Linked DNA regions of Homo sapiens: region 1 is linked to region 2. Evidence: fine-mapped expression QTL. A gene starts in region 2. The other region holds a variant in brackets. All regions are shown on one strand. Distances are from middle to middle. Region 1 overlaps TRHDE (thyrotropin releasing hormone degrading enzyme). Region 2 holds the start of TRHDE (thyrotropin releasing hormone degrading enzyme).

What was found. PIP is the estimated chance that this variant, and not a neighbour inherited with it, causes the effect.
Region 1: its variant is fine-mapped to the expression of TRHDE in aorta (GTEx, PIP above 0.99).

What each region holds. Positions count from the first base shown.
Region 1 is chr12:72,294,548-72,299,920 of GRCh38, forward strand. The region is part of intron 2 of TRHDE (thyrotropin releasing hormone degrading enzyme); the gene reads left to right. Among named protein-coding and RNA genes, the nearest start is that of TRHDE-AS1, 24 kb to the left of the region's middle. The variant C/T (reference allele first, on the strand shown) is at 2,752.
Region 2 is chr12:72,270,340-72,275,712 of GRCh38, forward strand. It overlaps TRHDE (thyrotropin releasing hormone degrading enzyme), which reads left to right and starts at 2,031. Exons shown (of 19, transcript NM_013381.3): 1 at 2,031-3,218. The coding sequence starts at 2,305. TRHDE-AS1 (TRHDE antisense RNA 1) reads right to left here and starts at 3,170. Exons shown (of 2, transcript NR_026837.1): 1 at 1,484-3,170.

The sequences.
Region 1 (5,373 bases), 24 kb after region 2:
CTGCTCAGCTCTGGCTGAGCATGGGGCTCTTATAAGCCTCAGAGGGGAGGAAGTGTACATTGATTGGGTGGCCATGGTTGGGCCGGGAAAAGGCACCACAAGTCCCTACTCTGGTCTGTGGGATGGCAGCCTGTTCCCTGCTCACTGGGGACCCGCCCCCTTCCACCCAGGAATCTTTCTGCCTCCTGCTGCCTGTTCATGGCACCCAGGCTATAAGTGCCAAGGGGTATCTGCAGGCCAGCATCAAGCTGCCCTCAGCTCCACCTTGGCTTCCCTCCTATGCTCATTGGTGCCCAAAATTTGTGGGGGGTGAGGTGGCAGGGAGCTGGAGTGTCAACACTGCCCTGAGCATGTGCACACCCAGCAGTGCTGTGACAGCACTGGAGCTTGCCCCGACTTTGCTCCGAGATAGGAGCAGGCAAGGACAGCAGGGAGAAGCCAGGCAGTGGGAGCAGGCATTTCTGAGCCTGCAAGGGCAAGGGGGGCTTTCCTGGGCCCCCAAAAGTGCAGGGATGCTTGAGTCCGCAGCTGTGGTTTGGGTGACCGCAGCTGTGGTTTGGGTGACTGCAGCTGTGGTGGGGGGTGGCTGGGGGATGGGGGGTGGTTGGGGGGTGGGAGGGGTTGCAGACGGGGCTCCTGCCTGCTCCAGGAGAGGGAGACCTGGGTCTTCAGCGTGGTTTGGGCGGCTGCAGCAGCACTGGGGAGCCCCACCCCAGCTCAGAAGGGGCAGGGCTCCTGCTTGTCCCTGGCTCTCGCGGGCTCCATGGAGAGGGCAGCCCTGGCCGCGCCTCCCTGATGCAGCCAGTGTGATGGCAGCAGCTGCTCCAGATGGCCCACTGCTGCCGTCACTATGATAGGAACATGGTGTCTTCTGTTTCAACCTCATGGATGGGAATATATATTGCAAAAAGAAGGAAGTTTTAGAGAAGGGATGCTGGGCAAAAAACTGCTACAGGTACTCAAAACATACTGTTTAATTTTATTGTGTGGACTGACTACAATAGGAAGGACACACACAATTTACAATGGTGGTATGTATATATGTATACCCACATCCAGGAAAGTACAAGACATATACACATAATGCACATTCCTGATGCTTATTTTTTCTAGATGTGATATTCTGTATATACGCTTAAAACACAGGACTCTTCTGTGAAGTTTTCTACTGAAAACAAATTAAGTCTCATTTTAATGAGAGAATTAGAGGAGTATAGGTTAATGTATTCTAACCATGTATTCTATTTTTTTTTTAAATCACGTTACTAATAGAAGTCCTGTTGTCATTAGACATTCCAATAAGATTGCGTTACAAATGTAATAATGGTCCATAGAGAAACTAAAATAAATAGTAACAAAAGAGTTGGATTACAATCTATTTAGGAATGTAAGTAGAGGCTTCCTTCCTACCCTAGGAAGTGATAGTCATCCTCCTCCTCTCTACTTTTTGAAAACTTTTTACACTCATCTCTCACAGCTGTTTTTCTGCTGTTCATAGAGCTTTCTTGCCAGCTCCTTTAGACTGTGAACTCTTTGAAGGTAGGCACCATCTTTGTAAGATCTGCAGTTCATGTTGTATGTAGAAAATGATAGATACTCAGTGAAATTCCACTGGTTGTCTAAATAAGTCAATTTCCATCAGAGATACCACCATGTCAAGGGTTTTCAAAATCTTTTGGCTAGGTTAATATGTGGAGCCTGAAAATTTGTGAGAAGTAATTTTGACCAATATTGAAATAAAAATAGAAAATGTTACAATACCAGTATCATCACTTTTAAGGACATCCGCAGGAAGATGTAAGTGAAAAGAGTTACTAAAGAGAGTTGGGTACTGAGGAGCAAAGGTTTACCACTAAACAGGGAACTGAATCCAGTGCAGACTCTGAGGAGAAATGGGATGGTTCCTGTGAGCAGAAAGACAAAGAACTGTCTCTGTTCTCCATTAGGAAAGCAGTGCCTGAGTATTGTTGATTTGTTAGTAATAGCTGAGTCATAGCTAGGATAGCTAGGTAGGGCCTGAGTTGGCTCGGTGGTCTGCAGCCATGTGGGTGCCTTTATTGCTTTTATGATGTCCAGCTCACCTCTGCTGCATGAGAGAAATGCCTGAGCCAGTCATGAGTCACCCAGTCAGGTCTGCAGTGGTATCAGAAGGCTACATGGCCAGGTCAGAAGTTTATTAGAGTCGAGGAGTTTAAGAAGTTAAAAAGAAAAGAATAAAATTGATGAACCTCCAGAAATTTCATTAGTGTGGTAGGAGCAGAGCCAATAGGTTCTATTACAGAGTGAGTGTAGAATGAAGAAATGGATGTAGTGATTGTAGACTGTTTTTAAGCGTGCTAGTTAAGAGAAGGGGTAAGAAAATTATTTATGCAGAGTCTGTTCCAAGGAGCTTTAGATTATGGGAGAGCTGAATCTATAAGAAGAGAACAGAAAGTTTCCAGAAAGCAGCCAAGAGCTACCTGATGTTAATGGCTTGTGTCTGTAGGGGAAATAGCAACACTCTTTTGTGCCTTTCTGCAAGTTTTAAGAACCCAGGAATAAGAATAGAGAAAGCAAATGTAGGGAGATTGAACTTGGGGAATTGACAAGGCACACTTGGCCAGCAGTCAGGAGGGTAAGACATCTAGAGTAACCATAAATATATTATTGGAATCATTGGCCATGGTACCCGGAGAAGCAGGGAGGCAAGTGAACCCATAATGGAAGTGATGTTCAGAAAAATGGATAGCAGGGGTGAAGACTACAAGTCAC[C/T]ATAAAAGTAAAATAAGAGTAGAGATATGAAGTGGATGAGCTGGGAAGATTGTATGTGATAGAGAGGAGGGTTTCAGATTTCAGGGTGAGTTGGTGGAATTTTAAGCCTGTTATTGCAAAATTGGGTGGATGAAGGGAACTGAGGATAGAATCATGGAGTGAGCAGAAAGTAAAGTAACCAAAAGGTTGTGTTGGAACAAGCGTCAATAACATGGAGAGGTGATCCTGAACAGGTTGGGAGAATCTCTGAAAAAGCTGTAAATCAGGCTTCAGATTCATGAAAAAAGTTCAAGAGTGTCACCTGCAGGGCCAGGTAGAAAATAGGAATAGTGAAAGCCATGAACACTGAAAGAAGAGAGTTGTTTTCATGGAAGTGGAGGAACAGTGGTGTAAAAGCAGCAATGGCAGAAGCTGAGAAAGTGCTCATCCTTCTCTCTGCCTCTGAGGGTGGATGAGAGCAGATCTGCTTAAGGATGAGAGTGTGGGCAGAAGTAGTGGGAGTCAGGGGTTTGTGCAAAGGATAAAAGTGTTGAGAAAAAGGATTACTTATGCGGCAGACGGAATGGTAGACTGGAGGGACATGTTAACAACAGAACAGAGGGAGGACTGAGCAGGCCAAATTTAGTTAATGGAGGAGCTTATAGAACCATTGAGCCCCAAGGTTTCCATTGGGATATTGATATAATGGAGTAAGCCTCAGCAAATCTCCATCGCCTTGTGACTGGCTTTGGCTTATGGTGGATTCAGTGATGAACAATAATGGGTTTTGTTATATAATCTACAGTTTATCAACTGCCCTGAGGTTTAAGAGTCTACATATTGAAGAGGCTAATAGAAGCTAATAGAAAGAGCTTGAAGTGAAAAACAAACAAATCTAAAAAACAGAACAGTTTGGTCAGTGTATCCATGATTACAGTATGTTTATACTTGATAATGTGTGTGATAGATTGCATGGTGCACAGCCAGTTATTTTTTTCCTTCAGTAGAGAGGAAGGAGATGATTCTGGCTGTGATCTTCCTTCCCTTATTCTTCCTGGTAGAATTTTGGGTGACTGCAGAGGGAGTTGCCAGTCCAGTTGTCTCTTAGATAAGGTCCTGGCATATCTAGAGTAAAGTAATGGCATATAATCTGATAATATTAAAAAGTTTTTCTTTCTGGCTTCAGATTTGTTTTTATTTTTTGACTTTCTTCTTCTTTTACATTCCAGTTCTTTAGGACTTTTACTTTAAAGAACTGTTTTTGGCCAAGCCTTTATAATCCAAGAGAGGTAGAATGTTGTGTAATACTGAGGAAAAAAGGAGTGAAAGATGAGGTTGGAGGTTTATGTAGCAGCCAGATCATGAAGGGGTTTGTATGTCATGTTAAGGAGTTTTGATTGTATGCTTTAGGCAGAGGGGAACCATTGAAGGATTTGAGCTTGGGAGGGCTTCAGGGTTATATAAGGAGCATTCTTTAAAAGCATGGAGATAATACAAAATGTCTTATCCTCTTTGTCAAAAGACTCTCAATTTCTTTTCTCCATTATTTACCTGACCAGGATCTGTTTTCCTGTTTCATTAAGGCTGCCATTTGGGTCTAGCTCAGCTTTCCTGAGGATTAAGGAATAGGCATTAAGTGACTGTCTGGGCAAGCAAGTGGAGTTTAGGTTGCAGTTGGCATGAAAAAATGGCCAAACTTTTGCACCAAATGTGTTGCAGTACAGAGAAGAATCTCTGGGTGACCATGATACAGAAGAAATGATAAGACAAAATTATATTCTAAAGGTTGATGTCACTCAGATTCAAATGGTTCTTATAGGATTTGATATCAAATTTCAGGAAGATTAACCAAGACATTCTGTTGAGATATATTAATATTTCTAGGGATGAGACTTGTAGGAAACAAAGAGACAAATTATTTCCTGAAGAATCAAGTATTATTCTTGGAAGGCCTTTGTACTAAGATGGATAAATAAGGGTGAATATTCAGAGTGGAAGAAGATAGCAAAAGTACTAATAGTACGATCTGTCCTCAATCACTACCATCTACTAATGTTTCTTGACTTCCTTATCAGACCAGATGGCAAGATTAAGACTTGCTGGGTCTGGGAGATGCTGTTGTTTTCTCATTAAGTTTAATTTGGGGAGGAACTGGCAAATGCCTAAAACCAATCACTACCCATATGTGCTGTTCACATGGTACTGAAAATCATTTCTTACTGTCATCTTAAAACCATAGAAAAACATTCTTTTATTCATCCACAAATATATATTGAGCAACCGTGTTCAACAATGAACTGAAATATTGGGAAAATCTGTCATAATTAAGATCAAAGAGATAACTGACTGAGCAGAATTCATCAGAAGTTCATATAGATGTAGGACTTTGAGTTACAGAGAGAGGAAAAATTTCTAAATTTTCTGATTAACCTTAATCAACTCAGTGTCCTCTTTGGGCTTAGCATCATCTTAAATGATTTTGTTTTTATGGGATTTAGGAGCCAGACAATAAGACAAGATAAACATACTATCATGCACTACATGGTACAAGACGCTGTTTTATAAAGAAAAGGTAACTTCAGTGGGATGCTAGATGTTAAAAAAGAACAGAGAAGAAGACCAACGAGGGCATGGATAGTGATT
Region 2 (5,373 bases):
ATGGACATTTAGAATGCATGGCATTGAGCATGTATCCCATCTGGGGATAAATGAAAAAGGGCTTCCTCGAGCAGGGCTGTGTTTTTAGTGGTTATCAAGCTAAGGTTAATGTGTAATTGGTCTCTTCTCTTTGGTCATGCTTTTAAAGCCAAACACAATATTTTAATTGTCTATTTTCAGTACTCCAAAGCCAGAAGCATTAACCAGTTCTTTTTGTAAGAAAATAGCTATGGACATGATTTGTAAAATGCCTTCAAGATTTGAAGACATGAAAGAAACATGTAAAAAGGAATTACCTAATTTTCTATTATTCACTTTTTTAATTAACCCAGAAGCCAATCACACTTTGTTTTACTAAACACTGGAGACTCCTGCTTCCTAGATGTCACCTTTGGGGTGGCTGTTTTCTGAATATTGTTCCAATTAGAGTTCTTCGCACAAATTCTGAAGGTTGGATATCCCACATACTTATACATACTCTGCAGTATAATTTTAAACTCCAATATACTCAGACAAGAGTCCATAACCAGCCAATGGGCTATGAACCTATTTTGATGCTGCCTGCTGTCAGCAAACTGGTCTATTGATAACTATCCTAACAAAGTTAAAACAATGTTCATGGTAACACTGGAAAGCTGCAAGAAAGTAATTATGGCTAGGTGAAATGAAAAACTGACCAATCATGGAATGTATTCGTTCACCGTTCTAATAAGCCCAGCTTTTCTCAGTCTCAGGGTTTTGGTCCTGAATGTTACACTGTAGACATTGTGTGTTAATCGTTTCTCCAATCTAAAGATGGGAATTATCCTATGGGGAAAACATCACCTTGCTTTGGCCTTTACTTCCGGAGGATTTTAATGCTTCATTGCTAACATTATTTTAGTACTGCACACCTGGACACATCGCACAGTATAATGTAATATATGTAGTCAGGTTTTGGAGAATTTATTTCAATTTACATACAATCCTCCAAATCCTCTGGCGAGCTTGATGTGAAATCTGACACAGCCACATCTCCCTAGCAGGATCTTCTTTTGCTCTCTATGTTAATAGCCAAAGGCTCCAAGGATCTCTCCCTGGAGCGCGGTGGGGCTAAGGAGTCAGGAAGAGGGGTGACTGCGGGGCTTGTTGCGCTGAAGATTTACAATGTACTTCTTGCAGGCGGCTCAGCAACCCCCTCTGTGGCTGTGGGTGTCTGGTGTGACAGAGCGGAGAAAAGCTCTCTAATCTCCCAGTGCCTGCCTCTGCCGCTCAGTCGCTCCCCTCCCTCCCGCCTTTCCTGCCTCCTCGCGCGCTCCCTCTCCTTTGCCTTTCTCTGGGAGTTTCAGTCCCTCAATGCAGCTGGAGTAGCCCTGGCAATCTAAACCCGAAGCCTGTGTATATACACACACGCACACACGCGCACACACATGCACACGCGCTCGGACATACGCACTTCGGCTCTCCCCCTTGGGATATGGAGCAAACCCAGAGCTTCATCTACCTGAAGGGGATGGCCCGGCCGGACACTTCTTTCTCACTTGTCATCTCCGGAGGGCAGAGCAAGACTGGAATGAGGGAGTCTCGCTGTCGGGTCTGCAACCTCCTGCCGTTTGCCGCCACCGCCGCTTAAAGTGCCCAGGGTGGAGAAGGCTTTTCCAGGACGGATCTCCGTCGTAGCTTCGCGGCCCTGGGACTTCCTCCTGCTGGTTCACTCTAGTCTCTCCCACCTCGGCCATCCTTTTCTCTCCAGCTGCAGGGTGTATGGCTCGGGTGCCTCCCGTGCTGTGGCCGCCGTCACTGCTGCTGCGAGCACATTCCACCCAGAGGACCGAACGCCGCCGCTGGAGTGGGGGGAGAAAGCGAAAGCCCTAACTTCCCTCTCTACACCCTCGCTCTTCCCACCGCTCCCGTCCTTCTCCCTAGCCGAGAACCGGTTGGAAGGCTCCCGCGGAAAGCGAGGCGAGAGCGCGGCGCAGGGGAGGGAGAGCCGGGAGCCGCAGGCGCGCAGGGGCGGGGGCAGCATGTGCCCCGCCGCCGGGTGCTCGTCCGAGAAGTAGCGCGCGCTGGGCAAGCAAGACGCTTTCCAAGTTGGGCGCGTCCCAGAGCTCACAGCCCGGTGTCCAGAGTGAGGCGGGGCTGATGGGGGTCGCGGAAGCTGCCGTCGCTTGTGTCCAGAACCCGTCTTAAAAGAACCCGGGCCAGCATCCCCAGTCGCGCGCCCTCGGCCCGCGTGAGCTCTCCGATGCCTGCTCTGGCTGTGGCCCGGGTGGCCCGCCCGCGGGGGGTGCCAGAGGGGGCGGGGGAGGAGGAGGAGGCGGTGTGATGGCCCTGGACGGCGAGCTGGGGGAGCAAGAGGAGGAGAAGAAAAAGAAGAAGAAAAAGAAGAGGAAGAAGAAGAAGGAGGAGGAGGAGGAGGAGGAGGGGGCCGAGAAGAGCAGCTCACCCTTCGCAGCCGCGATGGGGGAAGACGACGCCGCGCTTCGGGCTGGCAGCAGGGGGCTCTCCGACCCGTGGGCAGACTCAGTGGGAGTGCGACCCCGCACCACGGAGCGCCACATCGCCGTACACAAGCGGCTTGTGCTGGCCTTCGCTGTGTCCCTCGTGGCATTGCTCGCGGTCACAATGCTCGCTGTGCTGCTCAGCCTGCGCTTCGACGAGTGCGGGGCGAGTGCCACGCCAGGCGCCGACGGTGGCCCCTCAGGCTTTCCGGAGCGCGGCGGCAACGGGAGCCTCCCTGGATCGGCCCGGCGCAACCACCACGCAGGCGGGGACTCCTGGCAGCCCGAGGCGGGTGGGGTGGCCAGTCCGGGGACCACGTCGGCCCAGCCGCCGTCGGAGGAGGAGCGGGAGCCGTGGGAGCCGTGGACGCAGCTGCGCCTGTCGGGCCACCTGAAGCCGCTGCACTACAATCTGATGCTCACCGCCTTCATGGAGAACTTCACCTTCTCCGGGGAGGTCAACGTGGAGATCGCGTGCCGGAACGCCACCCGCTACGTAGTGCTGCACGCTTCCCGAGTGGCGGTGGAGAAAGTGCAGCTGGCCGAGGACCGGGCGTTCGGGGCTGTCCCTGTAGCCGGTTTTTTCCTCTACCCGCAAACCCAGGTCTTAGTGGTGGTGCTGAATAGGACACTGGACGCGCAGAGGAATTACAATCTGAAGATTATCTACAACGCGCTCATCGAGAATGAGCTCCTGGGCTTCTTCCGCAGCTCCTATGTGCTCCACGGGGAGAGAAGGTATGGAGGGAGGCGGTGCCCCGCGCTGCCCCACCCCGGCGCGCGGCTCGAACCTCTGGGCGGCCTGCGACCCCGGGGACCCAGCTGGCTTCCAATACCCGGGAAGCCAGGGGTGGGGGGAAGGAAACGAAAGCGGAGTAGGGCAGTCAGAACTCCGGGGTCTCCCAGATGCCTCGGGGTCTCGCTGCCGCCAACTTCGCAAACTGACTCACCGGTGCCAAAAGATGAATGCTGCCCCCTCCTCTAGTCGGGACCTCTCCTCTTCCTGTCAGAGTTCCTTAGCCATCGAAACGCAGGGCTCTTTTTCTGAAGGGTAGCTGATAATCTGAGCGATGCCAGAGTGACATGAAAAGCTTGCCAAGTTACTGTCGAGGGAAAATACGTGGCGCTGAAGGCCAAGACAACAGCGCATCCAGGTTAGCATGTCAGGGCAGGTCAGGGACACACCGTTCTCCACCCCCACCCACAACATGCCCATCTTCCCTGACTATTAGTCTCCTGCCAGGTGCAGAGCAGAGGATGGGCTTTGGCTGCGTCAAGTTTCCCCAAACTTCAAGTTGAGATTCGGAGTGAAAAGAGTGGTTTCCAGAGATAGGCTGAGAGGACCGGGACGGGGGTGGAGGTTGCCAAGGCCAGAGCCAGCGATAAGTGGCCTCGCGGGCGCTGCCAGCTCTGTGCTAAGGCAGGGCGACTCCGGTTGTTTGTTTATGAGTTGCTGCCTCTGGAGATGATTCCAGTGGCCAAGCGGTGGGAAAGCTAGTTGTCAGTCTCAAATGCCTTGTTAGTGTCTTTGCCGCGTTTTACATTTGTGTAGTTTTGTATTTTTATAAAAAATTTCCGAGAGGCCGTGGAGCTTTTCACCACTTGTTTAGAGCTCAGACCTCATAATCCAATAGAACTGAGTTCGAATCTCTGCTGTTCATCTAACTCTGGTGGAGGTTTGAGGAAGGTAATTAACCTTTTCCTGACATGACTACTTCTAGTGCTTATTGCACGCCCATGTACTCAATCCGACAAGAACCCTATGAGGTAGACGCTATTATCAGCATTCCCTATTTTACAGGTGGGGAAATGGAGGCACAGGTGTGTCACATAGCTTGATCAAGATCACCAAGAGTGAGCAGACAAAGCACGGATTTAGACCCAGGGAGTCTGGCTCTTGAGCCTAGACTTTTAATTCTAACTTGGGGATACCAATAATAATATTCTACTTGTAGGATTGGTGTAGACGTCTATGAGTGAATGCATTACAAAGTACTTACCCCTGTGCCTGGCATATAGAGTATCCACCATAAATGCTAGCTCTCATGAGTGTCTTGTGGCAGTAAGCTCTCAGGTATATTGTTGAATGAATAAGTGATTCTTGTTCTTTGCTCTAATTCCCACATTGCTAAGATAACTTAGATTAATTAAATGACTGAGGGCAGATGAACAACCAAAGTGAGCTTAAAAATTAAACCAACAACTTTAGAAGAGGAGGCAGGTTACAGATCAGTAATGAGGCAGAGCCTCTCCTTTTCTCAGGTGATTCTCACAACAGCAGAAAATGGGCTCGGAGAAGCCCAGGGCCCTGGAGGTGAGCAGGCTTGTCAGTGGAGAGTTAGGACTTGAACTTTGGTTCTCTAATCCCTGGACCAGACAGAGCTTATGGTGTTTGGAAACTCTCAGAAGAAGTTATTGTGTAAGAGGCTGGGGAAATTGCAATGTGTTGTGAAAGTAAGCAAAAGTTTTATTATTTATAGAGTTCTATGAAGTAACCTCCTATAAATAAAATGCCCAATGCTTTAGTAGCTGTATGATAGTTAAAACCTCCTATAAGTGAATGTATAAATTATTCACTTTCTTACTCCTGACATTAGATATGGATATTTTAAACCCCCTTCTACCACTTCCTCCAACATGTTCTAAAGAATACAGATTAAAAATATTTTTTAAACCCAGAATTATGTCAAATACGGGGGAAAGGCATAGAAAACAAATTTGCATACTATGTTTAGGAACAAGCTTCTTAGGTCAAAATGTCAATAGTGGGAGTTGCATATCATTACTGATACATCTTGCTGCAGTGAAATAAATGCTTTTGAAAAATCCTGTTTTTTGAGCCATGCCAAAATATGTTTGGCAGAACTGAGCTTGTTTTGGTCAATGCTTTCAA